Homo sapiens: one gene and its partner. The protein of the gene in region 1 interacts with the protein of each later gene in a biochemical or structural test. Each region holds a gene or a part of one and is shown on either strand. Other genes may lie near its edges.

Region 1 (5,458 bases):
GTGCTCCATGTAAACAAGCACGCCCAATTCAAGTTGGAACTCTTTAAATTCTGGAAGACAGCACATCACATCCAGCCACGAGGGGGCGCAGCCGAGCAGCAAGGAGCGCAAAAGTCTCATTCTTCACTGCAATTTCTACCTACAGCTCTCTCAAAGTATACACATTTTCAAGATTGTTTCCAAATTCAGGTATCCACAGGACACTGCTAAGCAAGCTGGGAGCTTTGCCAAGGCCAAAATAAATTAAATTATGGTACGGTTCAAACTCTGGAAGTACTGTGTATAGGAAAGGTTGTTTCTCTGTATATAAAAGTTAATACTGGTATTTCAAAAACCATGGTTAAAATCCCTGGAGGATTCCTGAAATGAGAACAAACACACAACAACAAACACACACCCAAGTCATGAGATGTGAACGTGGAGAAACCAACAGTTCAGAATTTCCAGTGGGGCTTGCAACATGGACTCCCAATAAAACAATGAGTCTCAATAAATTCGGCACTAAGCTTTTACCAGTATAGATAGACGCCTTTACTGGGCCTACTTACTACTTCTTAATAACTATAAATTATCTCCATACTGAACAGATACTGCTTCAGGCAGTTATTTGGGAAAACCCTTCATAAAGGACATTGGAGAGGGGCCATTTAATTATAAAATGTAACACAGTTAACCTTAGGGAGATGATGAAGCGAGATCATTATGTGTAACTACTTGCTGGGATTCTTTCTATTTAAATTATAAGTTCAGGTTATATGATGTTGTATGTTCAATAATAATGCTCATAATAGATGAAATGTTATAATGAGTCTCCACATTTGAAAATTGGAAACTATAAACATATCTATATTTTATAATCATTTGAATTGTGATACTACTTCATAATAATTTGGTGTCAGAGTATGTTTTTAGCATTTTGAGTCTAAGGCCTCATTAACATTAGGGTAAGGAACTCTCAGATTTGACAATTTTTCCCATAAGATTACGTGCTTTACTAGTAAAGACTAGCCAGCATTGCCCAACCTCCCATTCTCGGGCATAATGAAAATATTTTTTCTCCTGTATTTATAATTGCTTGGATGGGATTCTGTTTCAATCCTCCTGTAGCATCTTTTCCCTAAAGATACACTGTTTTTCTCCCTCACACTAGAGACCCTTAATAAACAATGTCAAGGAGGTGGGGAACTTAGAGTAGAAAGGAAAGGCTTTGCCAAAAGTATGTGACAGTTTTTGTGTTTAAAAAAAAAAAAAAAGACTCAAGATATATGTAAGTCTTACTAAAACAGGGAAATATAAGGTTTTAGAACAATTCTGTGAAAGATAAAATTACATCTTAGTTAAAACCAAAGGTGGCCTTCTAGGTTTTATTAGACAACTATTTGCCACTGAATAAAACTAAGGAATAAAAGTAAAGTATGCTACTTCAAGAAATGCTTCAATGGAAGCTTTTCTTAAAAGTTAAAAATTAAAAACTAGTCATGCCTTCAAATCTGGATGCTTCATTACTATCAAAGAATCACTTAAAATATTCCTTACAAATACAGAACATATTTCATCTTATAACTTATCCGTGCAGTCCAAAGAGGAAAACCTGAGAAATGTTGTTTCTTTTACTTACTGTGTAAAACTGAACATTGTATTGTACGGCCTAAACTTGGATTCCCTAGAGAACAATATCACATTTCTACAACATGACATGAGTACAAAAATTTGAGGTGCAGGATAATAGAAATATACTTGAGACATGCAAATGGAAGGAAATAACTATTTTATGTAATACCTGTCCCATGTAAGTAACCTACATGTTCCGAATGTTTAATTTGGTTGCCTCTAAGAATTAGGTAGGCTAATAAGGTTTTACAAAGACAATTTAAACTTTGTATCATATACCTGAATAATTCACACACAGACAATAATTGTAGAAAGAAAAAGGCAATGAGGATACAACTAAACTTGAGGGGAGTAAATGATACTTTGTAAATATGGCAGCCATTAAAGAATAACTACTTTGGGACTATTTTGAGATAAAATGTTTGTCTTCCCAAGGACTTCTGTGCATTGATAATGAATGGCTCATTGAACTTTAAGCTATGTCACTTAAATACAATAAAAATAATCAGAGTACCACACTAAATGTAATAACTATTTATTTTCTAAGGAAAATACTTCATAATTCTTCAATTACCTTCAATGGTCTTCATGGAAAGCCTTCCTCAACCTCCCCAGCCTGCCACCCCCAGCCTGCCACTCTATTCATTCTACCTGTCTTCTGGAGCTTTAGAAGGAGGCAGGAACCACCTGAAGAATTGAATTTTTAATGTGTAAACCAACTACTTGTCAGAGAGCTAAGAATCACTGCCAGTGAAACGTATTTTATTTTATATTTCTGGACATGGTAAAACTATTTAAAAAAATTAGTTTGCCTTAAAAAGTTCAGAAAAGACCACCAAGTTCCTGACAAGCAGAGAGGCAGAGCAAAAATTCTTCCACTCTGGATCATAGCACCCAAATTCCTCAGGCAGATTGGTTTTCTCTGATAGCACGGAAGACACAGGAGAGGTACAGATGGGCAGGGAGATGTCCCCTCAAAGAAGGAAAGAAATCTGAAAAGCAAATCTGTATCACCTATTATAAAATGGGATAACCACACAGGGAAGATCAGTTTAAAGCAGCTGCCAGCTCGATATCTCATTAGCGTGACTAGGATTTTATGCAAACCTGTTCTGGTGTAGAGATGACCTTGGGACTTTCAGATTCTCTGAGTTTAACTTGGGCAATACTTCTAAACACAAGGGTGGGGTACACCAGCAGGCCTGCTCCAAACCCCAGGAGCTGCAGTGCATGGCGTGGAATGATAAGCAGCCGGCCGGAGCAGAGGCAAGCAAAGCGCTAAAGGCTGATCTGGAGCAAGAGACTTTTGATCATTTAGTGTTTTTGACCATGGTCTATTCAAGTGTACATTTTACTTTTCTTCAACAGGTTCACTCAGCCCACTGTTAAACATCAGTGAGTGTGCATATGGATATACAGAATATATAGACATAGATCATGTCTGTAAGAACCAGAATCCCTTCCCCTTTACTATTCTATGGGAAAGTCCTTAGAGAATGCTTAGCTTCTTTTCAGTTAACTGCCTAGGAAGGTTTTTAAAGGAAAAAAGCTTAGAATTAATTAGTAACTCTGCAAAGCTACAGGTTTTTGTAAAGTGACAAAAAAGATAGTAAGGCAGACATGAATGAGTTTTAAGAACTGAAGTTTGCTGCTACCTGGAGTTACTAGAGAAACAAAGCTGCCTTTGGGCACCTCAAACTAGTCAGACCTGCTATAGCAGTTGCACAGTCAGCTCCAGATCTGTCCTCTGCTCTTCTCCCTCCAGCCCCCACCCCACGCCTCCGCATAGCTCAGTCCACTCTCTACTCAGGGTGGAGGTGGGCCGGGCACACTCACCCCTTGATCTGCTGTCCCTGTGGGGAGGCAGGGCCAGCTCTGGCCAGACAGTGTGCAAGTGTAAGAATAGGCCGGCCAGGAGCACAGATGCCAACTCCATTCTGAGCTGAAAACTGCAATGGGTGCGGAATACAGCTTAGGTGATCTTGGGTTTCCAAAATAGATCAATCAAATTGTGGGGTTTACTTCAGAGAATCCTAGCATTAAGTTCAGATGAGGGACAGAGGATTCTGAGAAAAGACAAATGGGTCTTTCCAGCTTTGGGATCCCTCAGACCACAAAGAGGGCAGAATTTTCAAAAGAGAGTTTGCGCTGTCTATATGTGGTGCTTGTTCAAACTGGCAGTATCTGTTCTGTCCTATTAGAAATCATATATTATAAAATATATTGTGATATTTTACTTTAAAATTTTCATTTGTATTTCAAAGAAAATTTTTAGACAGCCAATCATGTTTTGTTTGTCTCGTGATCTCCGAGAAAAAAAAAACAAAACAAGGAGTCTATTTATTACTCAGAATAGGAATGTCGTCTTATTGGGCTGACATATGCCATTCACAGATTCATACAAAGAATGAACTGCCACACAGTGCTAATGGAGAAAGACACTGCTCCACACAATGAGTGACGGACGCTCCAGGGGACAGTTCTGTTCATAAGGGTTTCCCAGCATCTGCACACAGGGCATAAGTTTGCCTTTAATATCAACTGCACTGGCCATTTGAGACAATCATTTTTTCTAGATTAGTAGCCATTTCCTTCAAACATACTAAAACTAAATGAAATAGCCACACATTTCTTAAACAGGAGTCCTGGCTTGTGGCTTTCTACCAATTGCTTAATGAGTAATTATTAACAATATGTACAAAATATATGAGTTGTGCATATAAAGTGGCCATGGCACTTTTAGATTTTCATGTTTTGCTAGTCAGTATTAATTAACAGAAAGACCTATGAGAGCTGGTGTCACCCTTATTGTGAGGCCATTTTCATGTCAACTGGAGCTTGCCTTCTGGTGCCTTCAGTACACAACTGATCTTTGGACTCAGTAATCAGAGACGGCGCCTGCGCTTGCTCTCTCTCTCACGCACCAAGTAACTATTGCAACTAGAGCTATCTCCTATAGGATATGCCATGACAGTGAATACAAAATTTCTGTTGCCAAGAAGCTTTAAAAATTCTATGAGTGAATTAAAGTTCATGGCCCCAAATACGCCTATCTATATATAGCTTTTTCCACAGGTAATATTGACAAAGTGGTCTTGATTCTGTTGATATATGTGAAATATAAAATAAAGCTTCATACTTTTTTTTCTGTGCTTTTTAACAAGAAACCACAGCAAAAGAAACCTCTCAAAGTTTCTGTTCCAGCTTTCACCTTTCTTAGTTACTAAAATGTAAAATATTTTGTCTGAGGGTAAACTTGTAGTATAATTGGACACTGATAATAAAAGTAGCATGCTGCAAGTTGATAGAAATTTTTATGTATTTGCATTCGAACATCTTCAAACTGCCTTCATACGTTTTGTAATGTTTTTTGTGTGTGATGCATGTGTGTGCCTTTCTAAAGTAGTGTTGTAACTTACTCTGCCATTGGAACCCTGTTTAAAATAGCAGATACCATAAGCTATCAGTCGCCACACAAATTTGAATGAGTTTTAAAATATCAAAATATGTGCTATTTTACTAGGCTCATTATCAGTAATAATTCAGTGTGTAGCAACTGGGCAAAATTCATATTTTAGCTTCTCAATTAAATAGAAAAGCTTTAAAGAGGGACAATTCAGCAAACAGAAGTGTAAAGATTTTCTAAATCTGAATTAATATCCTTCTCTTAGTTCTTCAAGGGAAACAAGCTTGAGCAGCTGTTACCTAAGACGCTGTGACATTCGCCTGACAATAAAACCGTTCCCTAGGACACCTCCTGTCACACATACACTTGGTTGGCTTTACAAAATGTGAGTCCTCTCCCTTACCTGTCTGAATGAAGTAAGGAAAAGGGCCGGGTGTTAAG
Region 2 (4,845 bases), on another chromosome or scaffold:
CAAACAGCTCTTCAAGGAAGGAAGGCCCTAACTGGTGACACTTCATCTCATTAGTCCAGAACTGGCTATCCAGGTAACCAGGTGCCATGCTAGTCAACTTCAAGCTACCAACATATGGAACAACCAGCTCACAAAACTCCTGAAAATTTAACAATTTTCTTGTGCATTCCAGTACAAGCCAGCTCTAGTACACTACTAAATATTAATATATCCAAAATATTTTCAAACATGTGACTGCATCCTGATGTAGTTTGAATGTGTGACCCCTCCAAATCTCATGCTGAAATGCAATCTCCAATGTTGGAGGTGGGGCCTAGTGGGAAGTGTTGGATCATCAGGGCAGACCCCTCATGAATGGCCTAGCACCATCCCCTTGTTGATGAATGAGTTATTGCTCAGTTAGTTCATATGAGATTTGGTGGTTTAAAGGGGTCTGGCTCCTCCTCCTCACTCTCTTGTTCCCTCTCTCACCATGTGATGTGCCTGCTCCCACTTCACCCTGCACCATGAGTATAAGTTCCCTGAGGCCTCCCCAGAAGCTGAGCAGATGCTGATGCCATTCTTGTACAGTCTGTGGAACTGTGAGCCAATTAAAGCTCTTTTTTAAAAAAATAAATTACCCAGTCTCAGGTATTTCTTTGTAGCAATGCAATAGACTAGTACAAATCCCCATTTTATAGCTGAAAAAAACCTAAACTCAGCTAATCTGTAATGTTACTAAATCCCTAAAAAACTATAGTCTTAAGCCCTCACAGACTGGACATCTAGGAGGAAATGGAAAGATCAATTTTAGGAAGAGATTTTTCTATTACAACATTCTGGTTCTCTGAAGTATCCTCAATGTCATAAAATAAATATTTAAAGAAACATGACAAATTGAAAATTAACACTGTAATATAATCTCCAAGCCATTTCTTCATTTCCTGGAAGCTGTCAGAAATGTCTTAAGACAGGTATGTCTTAAGAAATGTCATTGCCTTGCATGCCCTCAGATGCAAGGCAATGAGATGACAGCAGCATTTTTACCAAAAATGCCTTACTTGAATCTAATCCTTAGTAAACAATCAACAAATCCAAAAAGAGGGACCTTATACAAAACTAGCGACCAAGACTCTTCACCAATGGCAGTGCTGCAAAAGACCAAAACAAGGCTGGGGAGTTGTTTTAAAGGAGACTAAACAAATGAAGAGATAAGAATTAAATGCAATGCACAATCCCTAACTGATCCTTCAACAACAACAAAGGTTATAACTGACATCATCTGGCTATATGGGAAATTTAAATACGGTTTTATATTAGGCCAGAGGTCAGCAAACTTTTCAGTGAAAAGCCAGATAATAAATATTTCATACTTTGCAAGCCACACATTCCCTGTCTCAATTATTCAAATTTACTGTTGTAATGCAAAGACAGCTGCAAACAATATGTTTCAATAAAACTTTATTTGAAAAAAACAGCCAGTGGAGCAGATTTGGCTTGCAGGCTGTAATTCACCAACCCTGTATTAGAAAATATTGTAACCAGGCTAAATTTTCTAAGAGTAATGACTGCATTGTGGTTATGTAAGAGAATAGCTTCCTTATGAGATACAGTACATGCAAAAATAGTTAGGGGTGAAGTATTATGACATGTGTTTTTAATTCTGAAATGGTTCCAAATGGTTCATGGGGAGTGGGGAGAGAAAGAAAAAGAGCATATGGGGAGGCGCAGAGAGAAAGAGAGGTAGCAAATGTGGCATAATGTTAACTGCTGAATCTCAGTAAAGAGTCTATGGATTTTTATTACAGAATTTCTGCAACATTTATGAGGGCTTGAAATTTTTCAAGATAAAAAGCTGGGAATGATGCCTTCAACTGTGAGATTATTAGTAAGTGGACCTGTGATGTGATATTCATCAAGGGGAATTACCTCTTGATCAGTTGTTCCTGCCCTCTCCACACTGACCACCAGGTTAAATGCAAACCAGGGTAGCATAACATGTTAACTCTCAGCATTAGCATCCCCACTTCTGACAGCTGGAGTGGCCAGGAGAGCAGAAGAGGTCTACCAGCTGGCTGCCCAGGTTTACCCTGCTGACCTCTGGTCCAAGCATTGCTGCAGGGTCCGTGATGGTAGACATAACCTCGTTGATTAATTCCATCGGAATATCCCCCATAACTCGGGGTTTCTTGGCCTCCTCCAGAACATGAGAATCAGTCATTTTCCTCTTTTCTCCTATGATGATCAAAATAAAAGGCAAACAATGGGTGGTTCTAAACACAAAACAAATAATACACGCCAACTAATTTTCTAACAGCATTGATGGGCATGGAGGTCAACTCTATCTTTACCACCAGGGGAAGGGGTGACAAAGGAAGACAGGAAAGAGAGCCATTGTGAGCTCACAATAACTGCCAACCCAATTCATTGTGAATATTTTCTACTTTCTATGATGATTTTTAACTAGATACATGAAATATTAAGGCACATGTTCCTTCATCTGCAAATGCAAAGGGGTGATTCTAGCTATTGTTTGTTAGTACTCTCTAATATAGTCTCTTCAAGGTCAGAGAACATGGTCCATATGACACCAAAACGTCAAAATGGATTGAAATTTTTACCTTATGACCTAAAATAAGACCAATCTTTTGTAAATGTGCAGTGTCTTCTTGGAAAGAATGTGTATTTTCATATTTTGATCTCTATAACTCCATTAGCTTCAGCTTACAGATCATGTTGTATGGATATCAGTAAGAGCCTTACTGATATTTTTGTCTGTTTGACCTATGAATTACTCAGTTGTTTGTTTAAAGCCTCAACCGTTGGTTGATTTGATTATTTCTCCTTGTAGTCATGTTAATTCCACCCCGCCCCCACCGGCACCCCACCATATATGTACGGAAATCAGTTTGCATTAGGCTTTGGGCTTTATTGGTTAGTTATTGCTATGTAATAAACCAACCCCAAATGAGTCTTAAACCATAATAACTTACTATCATAGCTCATTCATTTCGTATGTTTCCTGATGGGTGGCTGATTTCAGCTCATCTCATTCAATCTTGGCAGGCTTGTTCATGAGTCTACCCACTGATTGGAATCTCTGTGCTGGGCTTGGCTATACACACACACACACACACACACACACACACACACACACACACACACACACATATGCATATGTGTATGTATGCATATATATTATGTATATATAGCTATATATTTGAAATATACCATAAATTATTTTTAATAAACAAATTTATGGATTTAATTTTCTATTATAAAATGACACACTTTATCTTTTACAATGCTTTTTTGCCCTAAAATGATGCCTCACAAAGTGAGCAGGACCACTAGCCTATCAAGTAGATGCAATCTCACCATTCCACACAATAGGAGAGCCATGCAAAGGCAGAGAGAACTTTCTTCCGCTTTCCTCATGAGATTGCATGGTAGTTTTTTTCTCCTTTCTATTCTCATGTTTGGTTTTTCCAGTTTTTTCCAGACATAACATGTATTTATTTTTACAAGTAAATTTTTTGAATTTTTAAGATGTCTAGATCTAATTTATTTCCTCACATGTGAATCCCACTGCTATCTCAATATAACATTCTCCACATAGCATTCTCACTATCTCTAGTTGAAAAGGAGCAGAACAGTATAAAGTAACTTGACTGTAGACGATTCTTCCAGAAGTATTACATATTATTTACTAAATCACTTTTGTCGAGTTCTTTTTTTTACAATTTTTTGTTGTTTGTTTTTGGAGACAAGTAACAATATTTTCAGACATCTGACCAATAAGTCCTCAAATTCCATGATTCCCTAAGAGTAATGCTGAAAACTATTTATTTCGTAGCTGGGGTTTGTACTTGATATGCCCTCTGCTTGTTAGACTGCTAATGGTGTTTATGATTTTTTTTAAAAAGTCTGAGGCTGAATCCAAGCTCACTGGTAAAGAGTTTCTGCATGAATTAGTGATATCTCCCTTGGAAGTGAAAGGGAATGGTGGCATATGCTAAATATATGGCACTTCTTATATTATAAGGTCCTCTTCTTTCCCTCTTTCATGGTACTTCTTTTATTTAAAAATTTGGTCACATCCAAGATTTGTCTGACGTCAAGTCTGTGGACAGAAATGCAACCTTCAAAACATTCTCTAACTGTGAAATGCTTCTAGGCTCAAGAGATATTTTTGCCCATGTGGTAGATTACATTAATGGCCAAATTCTTTACCCTCCTGGTATCTACACTCTTTGCTATGTGACTTTGCAGTTATTCCTACGAAAGGAATAGACTACCTTTTTCCACTTCTCCACCTCTCAACTCTGAGTTCAACTACGTGACTTGCTTTGGACGACAGAATGAGGCAGAAGTCAGCAGGGTATGGTGGCTCACACCTATAATCCCAGCACTTTGGGAGGCCGAGACAGGTAGATTACCTGAGGTCAGGAGTTTGAGACCAGCCTGACCAATATGGCAAAAACCCATCTCCACCAAAAATACAAAAATTAGCAGGGCATGATGGTGGGCACCTGTAATCCCAGCTACTCAGGAGACTGAGGCAGGAGAGTCACTTAAACCCAGGAGGCAGAGGTTGCAGTGAGCTGAGATCACACCACTGCACTCCAGCCAGGGTGACAGTGTGAGACTCTGTCTCAAATAAAAAGAAAAGAAAAGGAAAAAAAAAAAGAATGTGGCAGAAGTGATGGTTTACAAGTTCCAAGCCTAGGCTTCAAGAGACTGTGTATTTCTTCCTGCCCTCTCTCATCACAAGAAGGACATGTTCCGGGTAGCCCAATAGTCCCAGGAAAATTATGAGAAATATGTGAAGCAGAGTTGCTTCAGCTTAAGTGCTCTAGCCAAGCC

The links.
Region 2: the proteins of SERTAD2 (region 1) and KAT2B form a complex in vitro, tested with the Homo sapiens proteins (one study listed by BioGRID).

What each region holds. Positions count from the first base shown.
Region 1 is NC_000002.12:64,646,438-64,651,895, forward strand, and holds part of SERTAD2 (SERTA domain-containing protein 2), read right to left. Parts: intron 2,130-5,458; exon of another isoform or gene 1-2,129. UniProt on the Homo sapiens protein: Acts at E2F-responsive promoters as coregulator to integrate signals provided by PHD- and/or bromodomain-containing transcription factors.
Region 2 is NC_000003.12:20,120,037-20,124,881, reverse strand, and holds part of KAT2B (histone acetyltransferase KAT2B), read right to left. Parts: intron 2,215-4,845; coding exon 2,078-2,214; intron 1-2,077. UniProt on the Homo sapiens protein: Functions as a histone acetyltransferase (HAT) to promote transcriptional activation. Has significant histone acetyltransferase activity with core histones (H3 and H4), and also with nucleosome core particles.